2 separate regions of the Homo sapiens genome follow, and region 1 is linked to region 2. Evidence: fine-mapped expression QTL. Tissue or cell type: blood mononuclear cells. Region 2 holds a variant in brackets; the other region holds the start of a gene. All regions are shown on one strand. Distances are between the middles of the regions.

Region 1 (10,810 bases), 62 kb before region 2:
GTACCTTTTTACACCCCTTAGGCTGGACAACATGAAAATGTCTGATAATACCAAGTATTGCCAGAGTGTGGACCAAGAAAAACTCTTACAAATACTAATAAAACTGTAAACCATGTGAAAAACAATTTAATATTGACTGTATCATACCCTGAAACAGAAATCCACTCCTAGGTGATACATTAACTAGAAAAATTTTTATGCACATTCATAAAGAGATATAAACAAACATGTTCCCAACAGTATTACTTATAATAGTAAAAACTGTCATCAGAATGTGAATGTGGTGAGTTTATACAATTAACTATTATGCAGCATCAAAAATCAGTCAACCAGAGTGACACATATGAATATGAATCATTATTATTTACATAATGTTGATATTTTAAAAATCAAAAGCAATTTGCAAAAGAATGCATACTGTATTATATCATTTATATAAGGGTTACCTATGCTAAGCGATACAAAAATATTGTTAGTACTCAAAGTGCACAAAATGTATGAATGTATAAATGTACAAATAAATACAAAATTTAGAAATGAGGTTATCTTTTGTGTGTGGGGGAATGGGGTGGACAGAGAGAGGAATGGGAGAGGAGGCTTCAGTCATATCCATAATGCTTTCTTAATGGGCATAATGGGTATATCAGTGGTCACTGTATTTTTTCATCTTAGGCAAATTAATGTTTACAAAATAATTATTCAAATGAATTAAAATCCACAATAAAGAAGCATTTTCTTTAGCTAGAACAGATTGTTAATTTGAGAGGCCAATTTCATAGTAAAAGCCCTCTAACAAATTCATTTGAAGAAAAATCTTAATGACCTACCTCCATTTTCTATTCAGAACCTCAGCCTGGTTTTTCAAAAACTAACCACAACAAAGCATCACTGTCCACCCTTACAGTACCCCACTCATACTGATCCTGTCTTACTAAGGTCTACTGTCTCTGAGGTTTTCAGACCTTCATCTTCATGCATCAAAATTCAGTAATGTTTTCTATTTCCCTAATTACCAGTATCTAATTAAGCCAATCCTGTTAAGATACTAACAACTCAAAAACTAAAAGTGTTATCCTGTCTATATGTACTTTTATTTTAATGAGTAATTGCCAAAGGGGATATCTTTTACGACAAGTGTAGCATTTCAGGCATCCAAAGGGAAATATTCAAAGATATTTGACATCTTATTGTTTAATATCGCCATGAGTTTTATTTTCAAATAAGGTTAGTCTTGCTTATCCTAAGAAGCATTATCATTTCAAAGATTTTAGCAGTGTGGGTCAAAGAAATTGATTAACAACTTGCAAAATTTTATAGCCTTAATGTCTAAACATTTATAGATGTAATAGGAACATCAAATCTGTTAAAACTGCCTTGATCTAATTTGTAAAATGGTGATAGTTTTTAGTGTTGGGCCTCTGCTTGAACAACATCCAAAGTATATTTAGCATTTATCTTTCTCCAATTTTTAGACAGTCATCTGCATTTCCAGAGGGTTGATGACAGGGCAGCTTGAAGTTTAAAGACAGCACCTGCATTTGCATTTCAATAGTTCCATAATTCTATGAAACCACTGAAATCTCTTCAATGTCTCATTGTTTAAATAGTAAAGGTGGCCAGATTTTGTTCAAGATTCATAATCTTACAAAAATATGGAGCCGTTGTATTCAAAGCTTATTCTAAAGAGAATACCTTCTCTTTACACCTTATAATCCTGTTTGTTAAAACCCATAACAATTAGGTGGACATCTGAACATATTTAAAGTATTTTATCCATTGGATTTTTATGGTCCAAAATCAAGATTCTAGGACAAGATAAATGGGAAAGGAGGACATGTAGTTTGAAATGTGTTATATCAGCACCATCAATTTTTAATTCGGGGTTCCAAAATTATCTTTTTCTCCATTGGAAAGGAATACGTTTGTTTCCACGTAGGAAACTACTTCCACTTAACACACAGAAGGTAACTTCATTGGTAGGTATGCTGCCTGTATGCAAGGATCTGCAGTTACTCATAACTGGCTGTGTTTTTAAACAGAATAATTTTTGTCAAATATTTTGATACAAAACAATGAAGCCTGAAGTTAAAATAAGAAATTCTGGGCTCAAGTGCAGGGCAACTGGACACCCTTATGAGATGAGCCTTTGTGCCCTTCCTGTAAGTGTGGATTAGATTATCCACCACCTAGATTTAAGAAAGGATTAAATGAAAGAATATATGTGAAAGTACTGTGTTGACTGTATTAAAAAGAACTGGAAACCCATAAAGGACCGCTATAATTGTGTAATTGTTGCGCCAGGTTATTTTGTCAATACATTTTTAATCAGCACCTAAAATATTTCATGTCACTTCATCCAGCAGAGACATTGAGATGTGGCAAAATGTTTAAAAGGACAACACTATAGGTGAAAAAAAAACAGAGCACAACAGTAGTCAATTCAAAAAAAATTCTTTTAACAATTTTATTCCATTTCCTTGCCATTTTCAGAGCCCTTTCTTTTGGTGTTTTGTAACAATATAAAAAACGATCTGGCTTTTCAAAATATACTCCTTTTCCTTTCTATATGCAAATGATATGAAACACTGGCAAGTTGTCCTTAAAAGTCAGCCCACCTTCATGGCCCAGATAAAGTGGGCAATAATTCCTCTCTAGGTCCTCCGCACATTAGGTGCCAGTCTCTCAAGTCTCTTCCTAGACAATTTCTAGCAGCCAGGAAACATAATTTTTGACCTTGAAGACTTTAGCATTCCAAATCTAAGAATACAATCAGGTGTGTTTTCTTTTGGCAAACTGTGAGCTTACACACACCCCCAGAGTGGCATTTGAATGCTGTGCACAGTCTTGACTGTGTTCGAGGTTAGAGAACTAAAGACAAGATTCTTTCTCTCTTGTAATGAAGAAACAAAAACCACATAGCCTATATTCCACAAAAGAATACCAGCATAATATATCCTTTTTTAAAGATGTAATTCATTAGATGTGTGTAGAGAATAAAAGTGTAAATATAGGCTGGGAACGGTGGCTCACGTCTATAATCCCAGCATTTTGGGAGGCCGAGACAGGTGGATCACCTGAGGTCAGGAATTCGAGACCAGCCTGGGCAACATGGTGAAACCCCCGTCTCTACTAAAAATACAAAAAAAATCATCCGGGCGTGGTGGCACGCGCCTGTAATCCCAGCTACTCGGGAGGCTGAGGCAGGAAGATCGCTTGAACCGGGGAGGAAGAGGTTGCAGTGAGCCGAGATCGCGCCATTGTACTCCAGCCTGGTCAACAAGAGCGAAACTCCGTTTCAAAAAAAAAAAAAAAAAGTGTAAATATAGTACTAGCTTCATTGATATGTCTTGCTGCTTCTGGGACTTTAGAGAAGCGTATAAGAAGAAAGTGTGTGTGCCTTTACGTAAGGGAGCATATGAGAGAGAGAGAGAGAGTGTGTGTGTGTGTGTGTGTGTGTGTGTGTGTGTGTGTGTGTGTCAGAGAGAATGTTCATGGCAGGAGGAGGGGCGGTGAATATATGAAGGGAAGTTGGGAAAACCCTTCCCTTTTTGTGCACTCCCAGGGCAGCAGCCGCAACCCCAGAATGAGGAGAGGACTTAAGAGCAGGCACAAGGTTCGCTGCCATGACTGATGTGAAGCGACCTGACGCACAAGCGGAGACTTTTCTCCTTGGCAGCCAACAACCTGCAGCAGGCAAGGCGGGCGGGGGAGGAAACCCCGAGGAGGCGCTCCCGGCCGCCTCTTTGCTGAGATAGCAGGAGCAGCAGCCTGAGGAGCCACGAGCTCAGCGTCACTGAGCTAGTGCGGGTGCAGGGGCGCTCAGGCAGGCGCACAGGCCGGGAGCCGCTTCTGCCGCTCAGGCGGCCGCGCTGCAGAAAGCCGCGCCGCGCTGCCCGAGCGCCCGGGGCTGGCCCGCGAGCGGGAGGAGCCGGCAGCCGCGCTCCGCCCCGCGCTGAGATTCGTGCCACCTGCCTCGAACACCACGGAGGCGAGAGGAACCCAGAGAGCTCGGCCTCTCGTCCCGTTCTCGAAAAGCAGCCTATCGTGACGGAGCCGGGAGAAGGCTAGCGTTTCAATCCTGTGCAGGACTGGGATTTTTCTTCTCATAATTTGGGGGAGCCGGAGTAGAGGTCAGAGGGACAGGCGAGGATCTCAAAAAGAGACCGAGGGTTGTGAACATGGTTACCCCCTCCTATCATTGGAAAATCTCCTTGACATTTTTCACACTTTGAAGCAGCTGCAGCTGGTGTCGTCGGAAAAGGGGGTGGGAAAAAAGAGAGGGGGCGGGGAGAGCGGTGAGACACAGCCAAGAGCCATGAGCGGCGCCTCCTCGCCTGCCAATCCTGGCACCTGTGCGCCGAGCCACTGCACCGAGGAGGACCCTACTCCGGGTGAACACCGGGCTTGAAGCCACGGACACCCAGCCCCAGTGCAGCGGGTTCTCGCCGGCGGGACCTGCAGCCGCCCACTCGGGCCACCGCCACCGCCTCCTGCAGTTGCGGAGCGCTCAGCCCCTCCGAGACGCCCGCTGCGCCCTGGCCCCTGGGGATCCTCGCCCTGCACAGGCGCGGCAACGGGCAGGGGTTGTTACGGAGTTGGGTGCAGGATTCGCCTTTCCTGCTTGTCTCTTCTCCGCCCAGGATTTATTGTCTGTGGAGCCTTCTGGGGGCGGGGAGGGAGCTGCGCCTCCGCCACCGCCGCCGCCGCCGCCGCTGCTGCTGCGGTCGCTAGCGCGGCGCGCTGGGCAGGCTGAGGCTGGGGAGTGGACGCGCTCCTGCCTCCCCCGCCGGCGCTTCGGGCTTCCCCTCAGCCGCTTCCCGCGGGAACCTCTCCAGCCGTCCACCTGAAGGGCACTGGCATCATGGTCTAACGTGGCACCTTCCTGGATTCCCCTCTATCTCCTGTTCTTCCTACCTTCTACTCCTTCCCTCCTCTTCTCCTCCGAAGACCCTGGCGCCCACTCCACTGCGGACCCCTGAACACTTAAGGAATAACCCTTGGCAGCTGCACGACTACGCTCTCCGAAACCTCATGGGCAGTTTCTCCCGCCGGCGATGTGAGTAAGGCACGCTCGCTCCGTGGCGGAGGGTGCTGCGGGGGCCCGGCCGCGGCGACCGTAGGCGCGCGAGGTGTGGGACCCCAGAGGCCGGCCGGGGGCGGGGGTGGCAGGGCGGGAGGCTTCGGCGCTCGCGGGGAGCTGCTTGTGCGGTGGCCGAGGGAGGCGGCGAAGATGTGGTAGGTTGCAGAGCATTTGGAAATGGGGTGCTAACTGGGCGGGTGCATGGGAGCACCGAGTAGCTTGAGCTGGCAAGAGACCTTAAAGGGTTACATACTGCGAAAAGGAAAGGTAAATGTTGGGCGCTGGTGCTGGGACCATTGGTTCCGCTGAAATTAGGTTTAGCTCCTCGTTATTATCTTGGGTATCTCCAGTCAGCTTTTTTCCCAGAGGTGTCTGAGGGATGAAGCGCGTGTTTGATCGTGACACACACACACACACACTCACACACACTTGTGGCAGGACGCACTTGTCTCTTTATCTTGGAAGGTGTTGTATCAATGTCTCGATGTCTGTTTGAAAAAATACAATTAGAAGATTTTTATGTGATTGGGATTGAAGGGAAAGGGTGGGGTTTGGGGGGATGGAGGGGACGAAGGAACATGAAAGACTGGAGGACGGAAAGAAGTGGGGGAGCGTGTTCCCTGGGAGTCAGGGAGAACCTTGCCTCCCTCCCTGTCAGCTAGACAACTCCTGCCCACACATCTCCTTTGTGTGGCACGAGAAGCTGGTGAACCTGCCTATTCCCAATCCAGCGCTGGGTCCCCTTGAGGATCTTGCGTCCTCCTCTCCGAGTTATTAAGGATGCAGGACGTGTTTCGGATTCGACGTGGAAAGAGGGAGGGAAGCACATTAGCATTAAGGTAATCATGGCACCCTGGCTCGTGGACTATTAGATTGGCTACCAGTGGTCTCTAATCTTACTGTTTGCAGAGTCAAGAATGGGGGCGGGGGTTGGGGGACTGTATAGATTGCCTTTTAAAATAGTGTGACTTCATAATAACGGAGATGGCTGAAAGATTGCTTCCTTACACTACTTCTCGGCCATCAGGGCTGAATAAAGGACCCGCCTCCGCCCTCTACTCCGGCTCTTCTCTGGCTGTCTCTTCCCCATCAAGTCATAAAGCGAGCGGGTTGGGCGAGAGGGCACAGCTCGAGGCAGAGAAGAGACGGGGTCACTTTCACAACTCCCAGGAATCGGCTTCAGAAAGGAACCATCTGCGACTCCCACGTTCCTTTCGAAGTTCTCCTTCAAAAGGAATTACAAAAAAAAAAAAAAAAAAAAAAGCGATGGGGGTGGGGATCGGTAAGACACAGGGGTCCTCCCCCTGCTCTTTTCAATTACTTTCCCAATACTCTTTCAACACATCGAATTTACCTGCAGTGGTAACTGGGTCAGCAGGTAAATAGATTTGTATCTGTATATGTCGAAATGTGGCTCTCCTGGTGGATGAAAAGCAATTTTTTGTGAGCATATTCTAACCTAGGCGAAATTTCTAAGCACAATAGAGATTTTTATAGCGTGGGCGAGAAGAGTGCATTCCAGCGAAAGCAGGACACGTGATCCCTCCAACGGGTGAGATACAGTATTAGGAACTCGATTTTCTTTGTTCCAGCCTGAGCCTATGAGATGTTCAGCATCCTGGTTGCTTAAGTCCTCCTATAGAAGGAAAATAATAATAATAATAATAATAAAGTTGATCGGAGGCGAAATAGAGGGAAAATAAGCACAGGTAGACATGCGTGAACGGTTTGAAAGCTTCGCCTCTGCCTTTTTTTACCGCCCACCCTTCACCCCCACCCCTTGCTCCAGCCAGCCCCCTATTTTAAAATGAGGCATTTCCTCTGGGAGACGGTGGAAAAGTTCTCCAGCCCCTGCACACGTGGGTTCTCCAGCACTTCAGAACCTGCTGTGATTCGCAACAGATTACACCACCTTCCCAGTCCAAGTGTCACGCCTCCGTCCAGGCTTCCTTGAATTGGCTTCCAGGAAGGACTCTAAGGGAACTACCACGAGGTGTTTTTTGTTTGTTTGTTGTTTTTTGTTTGTTTGTTTTTACAAAAGACAGTAAAGCAATGAAGTCTTTACTTTTTAGAAATCATTGATTGCACAGGGGGAAAAATGAGCAAATAGGGATGTAGGAATGATTTTATGTTTCCTTAAGAGTCATATGGCTAAAGTATATTGGGGGTGTGTTTAGTGATTGAGTTTGGACTTCTGAGGTGTCTCAGGCCTGTGGAAAATGTCCTGAGGTCAGAATATTTATTAATTTAGTGGAGATATAACTTGTTTATGACCCAACATTTAGAGTTACCTGACTTGGAGATTTCTTATTTCATTTTCACTTAATGTTTTATAATCCATCTTAGTAGGCTAAAGTTTTTAAAAGGTGGTTTATTTATGTGTTATGCTGCATTGCATCATACTAATATGTAATGATAAGAAAAACAGTCAATTTTCATGACTTATTATGAGGTGAGAGTTCTTTATACATTTTTAAGAAAAAACTGACTATCCAAGAAAAAATGTGTACTTACCATGGCCAACACATAAATTCTACATCACTTGTGTCTGCACATATGCAGCTTAGAATTAGAAACAACTTCATAAAGAAACCTGGTCCAGTTGCAGTAGCCATGTTTTATTCAGAATTTTAGTGCAGCTTTAGGCTGTCATTAACATTTTCCCAATTAAATTCTTATTCCACTTTCTTTTTTAAGCTTTTAATTTTTCTAATTCCCTTATAAAATACAGAACATAAGCTTAAAGTGTTTTTGTGCATCTGCATTTTTGTTTTCTTTGGATTTCAAAAAATCACGAAGATATAAATTAATATGAATGTTATTGCTTATGAAAGTAATAAACTATATTATCTATATGATGTTCATTCCAGTGGTACTTGTAGATCTCTCTTATTTCAGCATATAGTACATGATTAAATATTTGATACAAAAACTTGGTCTTGTTAATCACAACTTTAAAACATTCACTTTTTAGAACAGATAAAATATTGATGTTAGGTTTTAATTGATGTATCAAAATTACACTTAGAGATACTAAAATTTTATTTGCTGAATGACTGTGGCCCCAATATAAGAAGGAATCACACATTCCACGAGATTATAACTTCATTGCTTACTCAGATTAACCGACTACACGAAGAGTAACCAATTATTGATGAATTATCATCTGAATTATTTATGGATTCTTATTACATTTTCTTTCTTCACACAAATTATTTCATAGTTTTTTGAAAAAATTATTTCAAACATATATGCTGTTGAACACAGTAGTTATAATAGCCACACTACCACTGAAAGACATTATTTGGTGTATTTTGTTGTCTCTAATAACAGTGACTACTTTGCAGAGTATCATCCACATTCTTTTTTGGAGCCATGTAAATTTGCAAGATGACTTTAGGGGAATGTTAATTCAAATCTGTGACATATAACAGACTTTTAGTTTATGACAAGCCGAGTTACCATTAACTAATTTTTATTGCCACGGAAAGATATCATTGGAGATGACTCTAGGCTCTTTGGAGAATGTTGAAGTTTTCACTCTGAATTTCTTTAATTTAGCAGTCAACATCAGTCTTCAATAGAGAGTTTTCAATGTTTCAATATTAAGAAATAAAATTTTAATATAAAGATAGCAATTTAAACCTATAATGAAGCAAATTATATTATATTCTGATGGAACAAAAAAGCAAATTATATAAGCTATTGTAATTAAATCAAATACCTAAATCAAAAGAAGGAGATTCATAGACAGGCTTCACATATGTTTTAAAAAACTTATTTGTGAATTGTCAATAAAAACTCAGAATGAAAAGTGGCACTATAAATCAACAATGTTTGAATGATGGTTGCCACAAATCAATAGTATTTTTTCTTTATGTGGCTTTTAACCATGTTATTTATGTGACTCAGGTTTGAATCATTAGAAATAATTACATTTTTATAGAAACAACTGTAGAGTATTACCCTGAGATAGTGAAAGAGGAGTAAGAAAAACTTAGGTATGTCTAGAAGTAATATGCAATCTTAGGTAATACATCTCTTTTAACAAGATAAAATAGAGGTGGCAATAATTACTATTTTATAACTGCAGGACATACCAAAGAAGACAAAGGGGTACATGAAATGTGGTTTGGAAATTTTAGAAGAGTGAAGTATAAACTTTTTTGTATAGATTAGTTTTTCTGTAGTAATGTGTGTGTGGGGTATGTGTGTGTGTGGTTCTGTTTAGTGATAGCATAGTATAATTATGTATATTATATAATGGTGTAATTAAAAGCATGCCATTTAAATAATCAAATATGTCTATTTCCTATCTCAAAAAAAGTGAATATGCTCAGAAATCCATGAACATCACTTGTCATACTGCCTCCCCTACCATAGTACCTGAACTGTAATCATAATTATAATAAGTTACTGCTTGCTAAACTCCTACCATGAGTCATGTGCTTTACTTCAAAATAATCCTACAGGAAGCATGATTCTCACTGTTTTGAAGATTAGAAAACTGAAACTCAGAGACAGCAAGTGGCAAATCCATGCCACGTGGAAAGTGATGGGCCAAGATTTAAGCCCAGATTTGGCCCCTGTTCATTTTTCCCCATTCTGTGCTCTCTTCTTCATGGCATAAATTGAAGTTCGGTAAATAACTTAAATCTGTAGATTATGGAAGTTTTTCCTGGTGTACAAAGAAAGATTAAGATTTTGAACCAGCTTTTGAAAGCTGTATATTTGGTGATAATACACCCTATTATTTTTGGACTATTATTTAATGTAGGTATAGAAAATACTGTTGCTTATTATCTTGGAATAATTCATTCACGACAGAAATTTAATAATCTAGTAGAATCTGTCATATAAAAGTACATTATGGAAGTTTTCAATAAAGCAAATTTTGAGTCAATAGCTGTCATGTCTATTTTGAAACTATGATGATGCACTTGATAATTAAGCCCCTGGGGAGGCATCATATATGCTAATTAAATTATTATTCATAATAGAAACATTATCATTTGTCATTCAAAGACATGGGAAAAATATTAAATACATTAATAACCCAAAGGATTTCCTGTGTACACTCATTCTCATTTTATTGTTCATTGCTTAATAAACTACTTAAAATCTCTATACAAAATATTATTTTACTTCAATACACGTGAAAGAAATAGTAGTTGTCAGGGATGAAGCATTGAAATGTCTATTAACATTGACATGATGTGTTTAAATATTTTAACAATGGAGCAGTTGTTTACATTGTTTAAATAATTCATTTATAGGCTTCTTAAAGATGCAGTTTCTTCAGTTGTGCCAGGATATTTTTGCTGTACACGAAGTTCAGTAAGGTTGAAAGCATACTTAACACAAGGGGATAGGTATGCCCAAGGTAGTATCATAACAAATGGCTTAAGTTAAAAACAGTGGAACTCTAGGATACTTGTGTGTGTGGCGGGGTGGGTCAGATGAGGGAGATATTTAAATGTTGTAGTACTCAAGAGGTAAAGTAGTATGAGAACAAGTGAGAAGCTATTGATTTCAATTATAGAAAAGAGGTAGCTGACCTTAAAACAAAACAATAGCATAAATACTATCATTATCATCATGAAATTTTCATAGGTAAAAAGAAATGGTATTGTGAAAAGCAGAAAAACAGAGCTAACAGAGGAAAATATGGGACAAACAATTGGAAAAGAGCTGCTAGACAAGTCACTGAGAAACTACAGGATTTTATGT
Region 2 (10,810 bases):
AGAACCAAGTTTGGGTTTTATTAATTATCTGCACTCTATGTTTTCTTGATATTTTATTAATTTATTCTATTAAGTTTACTATTTCCCACCTTCCTATATTTTTAGATGTTTAATTTACTGTTATTCTTAAGAACTGTAAATGAATGCTTGATTACTTATATCCAGACTTTATTTTTAATTAATATATTCATTTATAGCTATAAACACCTCACAAGTTTGGCTATAAATAGATTTTAGCTATAAACAAATATAGCTACAAAATTCCCACAAATGTGGCATGTAGCATTTCCATTATTGTTGTTTCAAAAATATGTTTTAATTTGTATTTTGAGTTCTTCTTTGATCCGGGGGCTGTTTAGAATACTTTTTTCTGAATTTCTAAACATCTGGAATTTTCTAGTTACCTTTATGCCAATTATTTCTTGCTAAATTCCAAATATTTGAAATTTGAAGAAACTCGTATGTTCCATGTGTATTTGAATACAATGTGTGTTTTGCCATTGGTCTGGTGTTCTATAGATGTAAATAAGATAATTTTTTAAAAATCGTATTGTTCAAATGTCCTATATTCTTACTAATTTTGTTATTGCTTGTTCAATGAAAATTTCTCACTATGTAAATGATCTATTTTTGCTTTTAATTCTATAAACTTTTACTTAACTTGTATGAGGCTCCATTATTAGTTATGTAACATCTGAGATTATTCTGAGATGGATTTCAGTCCATCTTGGGACCCGTTAATATCTGATTCATTCTTATTTCTAGGGTGTAACCCTCAGGAACATCTTGCTTGAGGACCTTGATCTTATTTTGGCCCCAAAAGATTGTCAGAATCTATGGTATGTTTTGAGAACTGGCAGATGCCCCTGAGGAAAAGGCTAGACTCAGCTTTCTGGGTATTTATTGCCCTGGATCTTGACCCCATATTTCTTTACTGCCTTGTTAACTCTCTGATGCATTTACTTAGAATCTAAAAAAAAAAAAAAAAAAAATCCAGATTTTTAAATCTATTTTCAGTTAGAAGGGTTGGTCTGAATTACATTCATCACCATTAATGAAAGCAGATTTTTAAATATTGCTTATGATTTTATTCCTCCAGAAGTTTCACTTTAGTGTAGACATTTCTTATAATACTTTATTTTAAAATTTTATTATGATTATTATTATTATACTATAAGTTCTAGGATACATGTGCACAATGTGCAGGTTTGTTACATACATATACATTTGCCATGCTGGTGTGCTGCACCCATTAACTCATCATTTACATTAGGTATATCTCCTAATGCTATCCCTCCCCCCTCCCCTCTCCTCCGCCCCCCCATGACAGGCCCCGGTGTGTGATGTTCCCCATCCTGTGTGCAAGTGTTCTCATTGTTCAATTCCCACTTTTGAGTGAGAACATGCGGTGTTTTGTTTTTTGTCCTTGCGATAGTTTGCTGAGAATGATGGTTTCCAGCTTCATCCATGTCCCCACAAAGGACATGAACTCATCCTTTTTTGTTGCTGCATAGTATTCCATAGTGTATATGTGCCACATTTTCTTAATCCAGTCTATCACTGATGGACATTTGGGTTGGTTCCAAGTCTTTGCTATTGTGAATAGTGCCACAATAAACATACATGTGCTTGTGTCTTTATAGCAGCATGATTTATAATCCTTTAGGTATATACCCAGTAATGGGTTGGCTGGGTCAAATGGTATTCCTAGTTCTAGATCCTTGAGGAATCACCACACTGACTTCCATAATGGTTGAACTAGTTTACAGTCCCAGCAACAGTGTAAAAGTGTTCCTATTTCTCCACATCCTCTCCAGCACCTGTTGTTTCCTGACTTTTTAATGATCACCATTCTAACTGGTGTGAGATGATATCTCATTGTGGATTTGATTTGCATTTCTCTGATGGCCAGTGATGATGAGCATTTTTTCATGTGTCTGTTGGCTGCATAAAGGTCTTCTTTTGAGAAGTGTCTGTTCATATCCTTCGCCCACTTTTTGATGGGGTTGTTTGATTTTTTCTTTTAAATTTGTTTAAGTTCTCTATAGATTCTTGATATTAGCCCTTTGTCAGATGGGTAGATTGCAAATATTTTCTCCCATTCTGTAGGTTGCCTGTTCAATCTGATGGTAGTTTCTTTTGCTGTGCAGAAGCTCTTTAGTTTAATTAGATCCCATTTGTTAATTTTGACTTTTTTTGCCATTGATTTTGGTGTTTTAGACAGGAAGTCCTTGCCCATGCCTATGTCCTGAATGGTATTGCCTAGGTTTTCTTCTAGGGTTTTTATGGTTTTAGATCTAACATTAAAATTTTATCATTAGAAAAGTCTTCCCACTCGGAGAATATCATGAGTATATTATTCTCTTAATTTTTGTTGTATATGTTTTGGTTTCAATTTGTTTTTTATTTAAGTCTTTAATTGAATTGGAATATAATTTGGTATATAATGTAAGATAAAGATCTAACTCCTTTTGCTCTAAAAGCTTAACCAATTATTCCAACATAATCAGTTTTTACAAATACCACAGTTTACAGTTTACTTTTGTTAGCTTTATATTATACTTAATATATTTGGTATATGCCTCTTTTCACTAGGCATTGTCTTCTCAAAATTGTTTCCTTAATACCATATTTAATGGGGAGAAACTGAAGCTTTCCCAGAACGAGGCAAAAATATCTCTCTCACTACTCGTTCTCAGCATTGTACTGCAAGTCCTAGCTAATGCTATAAGAGAAAAGAAGGAAATAAAAGGTATATGTATTGGAAAGAAAGAACGAAAATTGTCTTTGTTTGCAGATAACACCGTCATCTATATGAAAAGTCAGAATGAGTAAAAAAAATTCTTTTGGAATAAGTGCTTATACCAAAGTCATAGGATAGAAAGTCAACACACAAAAGTCAGTTGCTTTTTTATATACAGCAATGAACAAGTGAAATATGAAATTAAAACACAATACCATCTATATTAGCATTCCCCCAATGGAATACTTAGGTGTAAGTCTAACAAAATATGTACAAGATCAATATTAGGAAAACTGCAAAACTGTGATAAAAGAAATCAAATAACTAAGTAAACTCAGAGATATTCACCATTTATAGATAGGAAGATTCAATATTGTCAAGATCTCAGTTTTTCCCAGCCTGATCCATAGATTCTGTGTAATCCCAATCAAAATATCATCACGTTCTTTTGTGGATATCAACAAAGTGTTTTTGAAGTTTATGTGAACAGGCAAACACACGAATACCTAACACAATATTGAAGGAAAAGAACCAAGTCCAGATGATGAAAGTACTGAACTCCAACTACTATGAAGCTATAGTAATCAAGACAATGTTGGTATTGGCAAAGAATAGACAAATAGATCAGTGGAACAGAATAGAAAGCTCAGAAATTAACTCATAGAATATAGTCAATTTATCTTTGACAATGAATCACAAACAGTACAATGGAGAAAAGACAGTCTCTTCAACAAATGTGCTAGAACAACTGGATATATATGGGCAGGAAAATGAATCTAGACACAGACCTTACACCCTTCACAAAAAATAGCTCAAAATGGATTATAGACCTAAAGGTAAAACTTAAAACTGTAAGACTTCTAGAAGATTACATAGGAGAAAATCTAGATGACCTTGGGTTTGGAAGTGCATTTTTTAGCTATAACACCAAAGGCATGATCAATGAGAGAAATCATTGATAAGATTTCATTAAAATTTGAAATTTCTGTTCTCTGAGAGAAACTGTCAAGAGAATTAGGCAACAAACTGGGAGAAAATATTGGCAAAAAACATAACTGAGAAAAGGCTGTTATCCAAGATGTACAACTATTAATATTCAACATAAGAAAATGAATTATCTGATTAAAAAATAAGCAAAAGATGTGGACAGATACCACTTTGGCAACTTTTTTAGTTGAATAGAGATTTTGTTTGAAACTATAAATAAGAATACATAAATGAAGAAGTATTAAAATATTTATAGTATTTAGACAGTATTTCCATCGAGGAGTATATTATGCCTGCCTTGAACCATGTTATCAGCTGGAAATACCAACTCTTTGTAACCGTACACTTAAGCATCCCACTCTGCAACCTGCACGTCTCCAAGCTCAGTCACTTGGTCTATAACCTATTATTCAAACACACAGAGATTCTAGTCCCAGGATGACTACACTTTCTCTCTCCAAATTCTCTTTATTTCATCTCTATTTTGACATAGTTTTGACTCTTTAGTATGTCACTTTATCCAATGTATCTTCAATATATTCTCAATTACTTTCTCTTTGTTATTCTTAATTACTGTCATGTTCTTTCCCTCTCTCTCTGCCTATGTTAACTGTAGAGGAAAGTAAATAATGCATAGATTGATGCTATTAAAGTTAATATTTCTATATTTTATTATTAATTTCTTGTTCTCATTTTATTCAGTAACTATTTCTTATCTTTGTCACTTTCCCAAAATCTAACTTCACTATCACCCTTTCAACTCTCAACAGCTGAGCTAGTTTTCTTCTTAAATCACAGAGAATATAGACATCATCAGATGTGAAATTTATCAATTTCTTGTCACCAAATATATAATCATCTTGGCATGTGCACCTATCCTCTTTTTTTCCCTCCAGTGTCCTGCTTCCTATAATGGTGATTTCTCTGCCTGTGCATTAGATTACATTGTATTCTGCCTCCATCCATGCATTTATCCATATTTTCTGTATCTCCAACATCTCTCTATTTTCTTGTTCCTTCCTTCCTCATTTTAACTTCTACAAGAATTTTCTATTAATAGCAAACAACTT[T/C]GGATGTCTTCCGTATATATAATCTATTTCTCTGCTATCCACTGCAAACATTCTTAAAAGAGTTGCCCACTTCCCTATTGGTGGACAGTTTTCAATATTGTGCTATTTCAAACAATAGTAAAATTAGCACATATTTCTATATGGTAGATTTACAGAATTCCTATTAATAGGTTGAGAGTTAAGTGTTTAAAGGCATGATACTTACTGCCAAATTGCCTTATAAAATGTCTGTAATGATTGCCAGCCCATCTACAGTCCAGTTTACCTATACTTGCTACCTTTATTTTGTTATTAGTAACGAATATTATTTAATCTAAAATCTAAATGTTTTAATCTAAAATCTGAAATTTTCTGTCAATCATTTTTAATTGTACATGCTTTTGATTAATCATTTTACTTCAGTTTCAATTTTTTATTGATTAATAATATTGGGCACCTTTCCAAATATTCATTGGCTATTTCTTTTTCTATTAGATGCCTATTTTCTATCTTTTACCCTTTTATTTTTATATTTCTTGGAGCCATTTGTGAATAAATATTATAATTTTTTTCTTTTTTAATTGCTTGATATACCAAATAAAGTTGAAATTTCTGCTGTGTGAAAGAAACTGTCAAAAGAATTAGACAAGCAACAAACTAGGAGAAAATATTGGCCAAATACATGATGTATAAGCAATTTTGTAAAAATTTTGTAAAAATTGCTTATATAGCCAGATCTGTAACTTCTTCTTTTTGGCTTTTGGGTTACATGCTTTAAAAATCACTCCTTTTGAGGAAATTGTGTACATTGACTGCCTGCACTTCTTTTTTTCATTTTTTTTTATTGAACCTTAATAGAAGTACATATTTTCAGAGTACCTGTGATAATTTTATACATCCATATAATGTGTACAGATCAAATCAGGGTAATTGGAATGTCTATCACCTTAAATATCTTTTCTTTATGTCTGCACTTTTCGAAACCCTATTATACCTTAATTCACTGCAATGTGGATTTCTGTCTTCACTGGTCGACTTAACTTGCCCTTACCAAGGCTGCAAATGACCAAAGTAAGCACATTTTCTATGAAATTTTTTTTTCTGCTGTTTTACATGATACCATATCCTACCCATTTTGGTCCTTGCTTTCTGACTACTACTCAGTCTTTACACGCCTTGAACTCAAATCATCTCATTGTTGATATTCTTCAGAGTTTTGCCATAGGACAGCATCTCTCCTCATTTTTTAAAACTCTGACTTGTAGCTACAAGGTTTATCTCAAGGTGTGATGTCATCTTGATGATTGTGGATGGGGGTGATGTTCTAGTTTTGTTTGACATCATTATGGCCAGGGCCCCAGGGAGGCCAAGGTCCTCCCCCGACAGTCGCTTCTTTCCCCTCTCCGTAAAGCCCCATGAGAGCTTTTTTGGCAAGAGTTGCCAAAAAGTAAAGAGAAAATGCCATTTTGTTATCAAAGGTGGGCTGGTGTGAGATAACCCTCAATGCAGAGCTCTGTTCAATTAGATAATAGTGAAGTGTTTAGGCTTCTTCTACCACTTTTCCTAAAAGCCCGATCTCTACCTTTGGATCTTACTACACTCTAGCTGGCTGCTTGATAAACTCAAACTCATAATCATCCTGCTCAGTGTGTTCAGAGTCTGTTTTCAACTCTCTTGCCAGAGTATACATCTTAATCTTAAATCTGATCATGTCTGTTTCCTACTCATATCACTCCAAAGCCTCCCTTGTTGACTTAAGGTTTAAATAAAAACCTTTATCATGTCTTACAAGACTTTCTGATTTAAAGTCTTTCCTCCTTTTCCAATACAGCCTCTTTTTAAATTTTTAAATATTTTTCTTCTCTCTGCATCAGCCAGTCTGAATCTTTAGGTTATCTAATAAAATGTCTTCTCTATAACCTTAGTGACTTTGTGCAAGCTGTTCCCTCTGGCTAGGACCCCATGCATTTCTTCCTGTGGCAAGTGGCCACTCCCATGTGCCCACAGCACCCATTGTTTCCCTCCATCCCTCCAGCAATGATCACATTATATTGTACTTCCCCAGATACTTCACATTGTAGCTTCCACACTAGACTCTGAGCTATGTGAGGATAGGACACAGTTTTGTCCTCAGCACCTAGCACAATACTTGCACTGTGATATATGGCTTATAAATATTTATTAAATTTACAGTTAGCTGAGTGCCAAGTACTCCCTTATAGCATTTTAAATTTTCTCTATCATTCCTTCTAAATTGTATTTAATTTTGATTAATCATTTTATGTAATTAGAGAGATAAAGCCCACTTTACTGATTTTATTTTTCAAGAAGCCATTTTACATTAATTTTCCCTTTAACGTCTTTTAGTACTCCAAATCACTGTTCTATTATCATCATATTTTGTTCTCTTCTCATAGTGTTTTGCCCCACTGTGGTTATTTGTTGACTTGGGTTTATTGAGTGAGTGAGTGATTGAGTTAATGAGTAAATGCCTCTCACTTTTCCCCAAGCAGACACTAAGTGCCATCCAAGCAAGTACCGAATTTATCTTGTTCATTATTGGAGTCTCAGTGACTAGAATAATGACTATATATGGGATTAATGAATAAATATGTAATTTTATGACTACCATTTTGCTAAGTAGTTTCTAATTTTAGAAGTAAAATTAATTAAAAATTAAATAGTTTTAATTTTCTCTTTGGTCCAAGAGTTAAGTAGAGCATTTCTATAATTTCCAAATAATTGAAAGTTTTTTCTTTCCTTTTTGCTTTGTATTAATACTTTGTAATTTTAATGCAATGAGATCACAGAAATAGAGTATTTACAATTGTACTATTGAAAACTTGTTAAGTCTTTCTTTGTGGGATAATATCTGAGTAATATTTTTAAATCTTCCATGATTACTTCATAAAGTTTCCATAAGATACCAAGTTTGACCTGGAACTATTAAATCAACAATAATATAATATCCAGGTGTCATTCCTTATATATTTTTTGTTTACAAGTTCTGTAAAATGCTTTCTTAAAAAATGAGTTAAATCTACAATTACTGTCCTTTTTATTTTAATTTTCTTGATTCCAACACTTATACAGATTATATGTTAATGTCCTGTTATTGTTAAAGATTAATGATTATGGAATAACTTTATCTTTTTATCAAAATTATATTACTGTATCTGTCCAATTTAAGGTGATTTGCTTTAAAATGTGCTTTTAATTTTTTTTGTTATTTATTTATTTATTTATTTAATTTTTGAGACAAAATCTCCCTCTGTCACCCAGGCTGGAATGCAGTGGTGCGATCTCAACTCACTGCAACCTCTGCCTCCCAGGTTCAATCAATTCTCCTGCCTCAGCCTCCCAAGTAGGTGGTATAACAGGCATGTGCCACCATATCCAGCTAATTTTTCTATTTTTGGCAGAGATAGTATTTCACCATGTTGGCCAGGCCGATTATGAATTCCTGACCTCAAGTGATTTGCCCACCTCTGCCTCCCAAAGTGCTGGGATTACAGGCATGAGCCACCGTGCCCAGCCAAACATACTTTTAAAAGGTTATATTTTATAAAAACTCTTTTTATTATTTTACTTATTTATTTTTTAATCTAGGGCCTGCCATGGGGCTAGCAGACCCCTCACCCTGGCAAGAGGAAATAATTCTTAAATAATATTATCTTAATGTTTGATTTCTTTTTTTCTTCTTGTTTGCTGATATATTTTTGTCTAAACTTTACATTTAATCTTTCCTGTCATTTTGTTTTGAGTGTGACCCTTATAAATAGCTTATAGTTGTACTTTGTTTTCTGATCCAGTCTGAGTCTTTTCAACATGTTAGAAGAATTTAACTCACTTATACTTAGTGACATTAAAGCTAATATTTAATAAAAAATTAACATTTTGAAAGTACTTACAATCTGTCATGTGCTACTCTAATTTTATCTATTAATACATTTAATTTTTATAATAGTCCAACTAGATAAAGAGTATGAATATACTCATTTTACAGATATGGAAACTGAGACATAAAAAGATTATAAGTGATTTGTTAAGGTCACAAGAGTAAAACGTGAAAGAGCCATGAAGTGTTCCTAAGTAGTCTGGCTCTAGAGCTTGCTATAGCTACAAGCTATATTGTCATCTAATTTTATGTTGATTTTGAAAACTTTAGATAATACATTATATATTCATGCGGTCTGCAAGATCTTTGAGATAATCATTTTAAAATGTTGCAGATAGATTCCTTAAGAATCTGTTTTCCCATGTGGCCCAGCTCTTCTGTGACAGTTTTCATCTATGCTTTGAGTCCTAAAAATACTTCTTGGTTCTGGAAGAATAATGCTGTTCATACCTGATTTATGGTTCTATTGAAACCTTGTAACTTTTATGTTTTCCGGATAAGCAGATGCTCACTCTGTCAACCTAACTATGAATTCCATTAGATTTCTGTTCCTTTATGTCTATGAAATCCAAATTACCCTTTCTCTCTTAGCTTTGAGCTCTGGTTGTATGTACACAATTCCTGTGACCACCTTTCTTAGGGTACTTTGGACATGGCACAATGCAGCCACTGGCATCTCAGCTTCTGGGATGGTTTTTAAACTTAAAGATGATTACAGAAAGCCAGTGATCCTAATGACAGAGTCAGACTGGGCCGCAGACTGAAGCACACATAAAAGAAAATTTGACTGAGCGGAAAATTGAGAAGTGAGAAGCAGAAAATGTCTGACATTCAAGTATTTAAAATTGCTTGTTTAAACTTTTTATTTTAAGTTCAAGGATATATGTGCAGGTTTGTTACATAGACAAAGTTGTGTTACGGGGGTTTGTTGTACAGATTATTTCATCAGGCTAATACCCATAACTTGTTTTCCTGATCTCTTCCCTCCTCCACCCTCCACCCTCCAAAAGGCACCAGCGTTTGTTCCCCTCTATGTGTCCTTGTGCTCTCATCATTTAGCTCCCACTTATAAATGAGAACATGCAGTGTTTGGTTTTCTGTTCCTGTGTTCATTTGCTAAGGATAATGTCCTCCAGCTCCATCCATGTCCCTGCAAAGAACATGATCTCATTCTTATTTATGGCTGCATAGTATTCCATGGTGTATTTAGTGTTTGCTTTAAGCTTAGCGAAAGTGATTAATCCATAACTACCAAAAGACTAAAAAGAATTCTATTAAAACTGCTTTTTAACAATGTTTATTATGGCAGGAATAATTTTGGTGCATTGAATTTAAAAGGATAATGCAGTTATTTTGAGAATCTAAAATAGATAATAGATAAGGTCAAAAAGCAAAAATCAGAGGTAATAAATGGTATAGATAACCAAACAATGCAAACTTTGTATTTTTGACAAAAAAAGATTTTTTAATTGTTTATCCATCTAAAATGCTTTTGTAATAAAAATAATTGGAATTTTTCCTGTTGAAATTTATTTTACAGACCACATTTTCAATATAATCTTTTTATGATGTCCGGATTTTAAAAATAATAACAATTTAGAACAAAGGATAATGTTTGCTCACAGAAAACAACCAAAAGTTGATAGTGTGCTTGCACAACCTAGCAATATACTCCAGTACCTATGAAACTAATGCAATTAAAGATATATCAAAATAAGATACACATCACATTACTGATGTTTTTTTAAAAAAATAGTATGTCAATATTAATGGCATGAATCATAGAAAATCATCTAATAGCAGATATTAAATTAGTGAAAATGAGCAAAACACATATCAATTTTTACCTAAATCATGCAGATATTAGTAAATAAATTAACAATTTCCCTTAATAAATGGGATTTGTTCATCTTTTTAAGTTGGTAGGTAAAATATTAAATTGAAAAAGTTTGTTTAGGACATATTCATTGAATGATTGAATAAATGAATGAATACCAAACCTACTTCCTGGTTTCAAAGAATCTACCATGCATCAATTCAATAGTACCTAGGATAAGTGTAGAGTTTTATATTTCTTGAAAAAAGAATGGCCAGATTTGTGTTTTCAGGTCATGCAACCACATATGTGATTCT

Evidence for each region. PIP is the estimated chance that this variant, and not a neighbour inherited with it, causes the effect.
Region 1: LRRC7 starts here. The variant in region 2 is fine-mapped to the expression of LRRC7 in blood mononuclear cells (TOPMed, PIP 0.94).

The regions. Positions count from the first base shown.
Region 1 is chr1:69,563,586-69,574,395 of GRCh38, forward strand. LRRC7 (leucine rich repeat containing 7) reads left to right here and starts at 4,337. Exons shown (of 27, transcript NM_001370785.2): 1 at 4,337-5,056. The coding sequence starts at 5,055. LOC105378789 (a long non-coding RNA gene) reads left to right here. Exons shown (of 12, transcript XR_947488.3): 12 at 22-2,265. RefSeq lists a silencer at 3,761-3,990.
Region 2 is chr1:69,625,413-69,636,222 of GRCh38, forward strand. The region is part of intron 1 of LRRC7 (leucine rich repeat containing 7); the gene reads left to right. Among named protein-coding and RNA genes, the nearest start is that of LRRC7, 63 kb to the left of the region's middle. The variant T/C (reference allele first, on the strand shown) is at 4,801.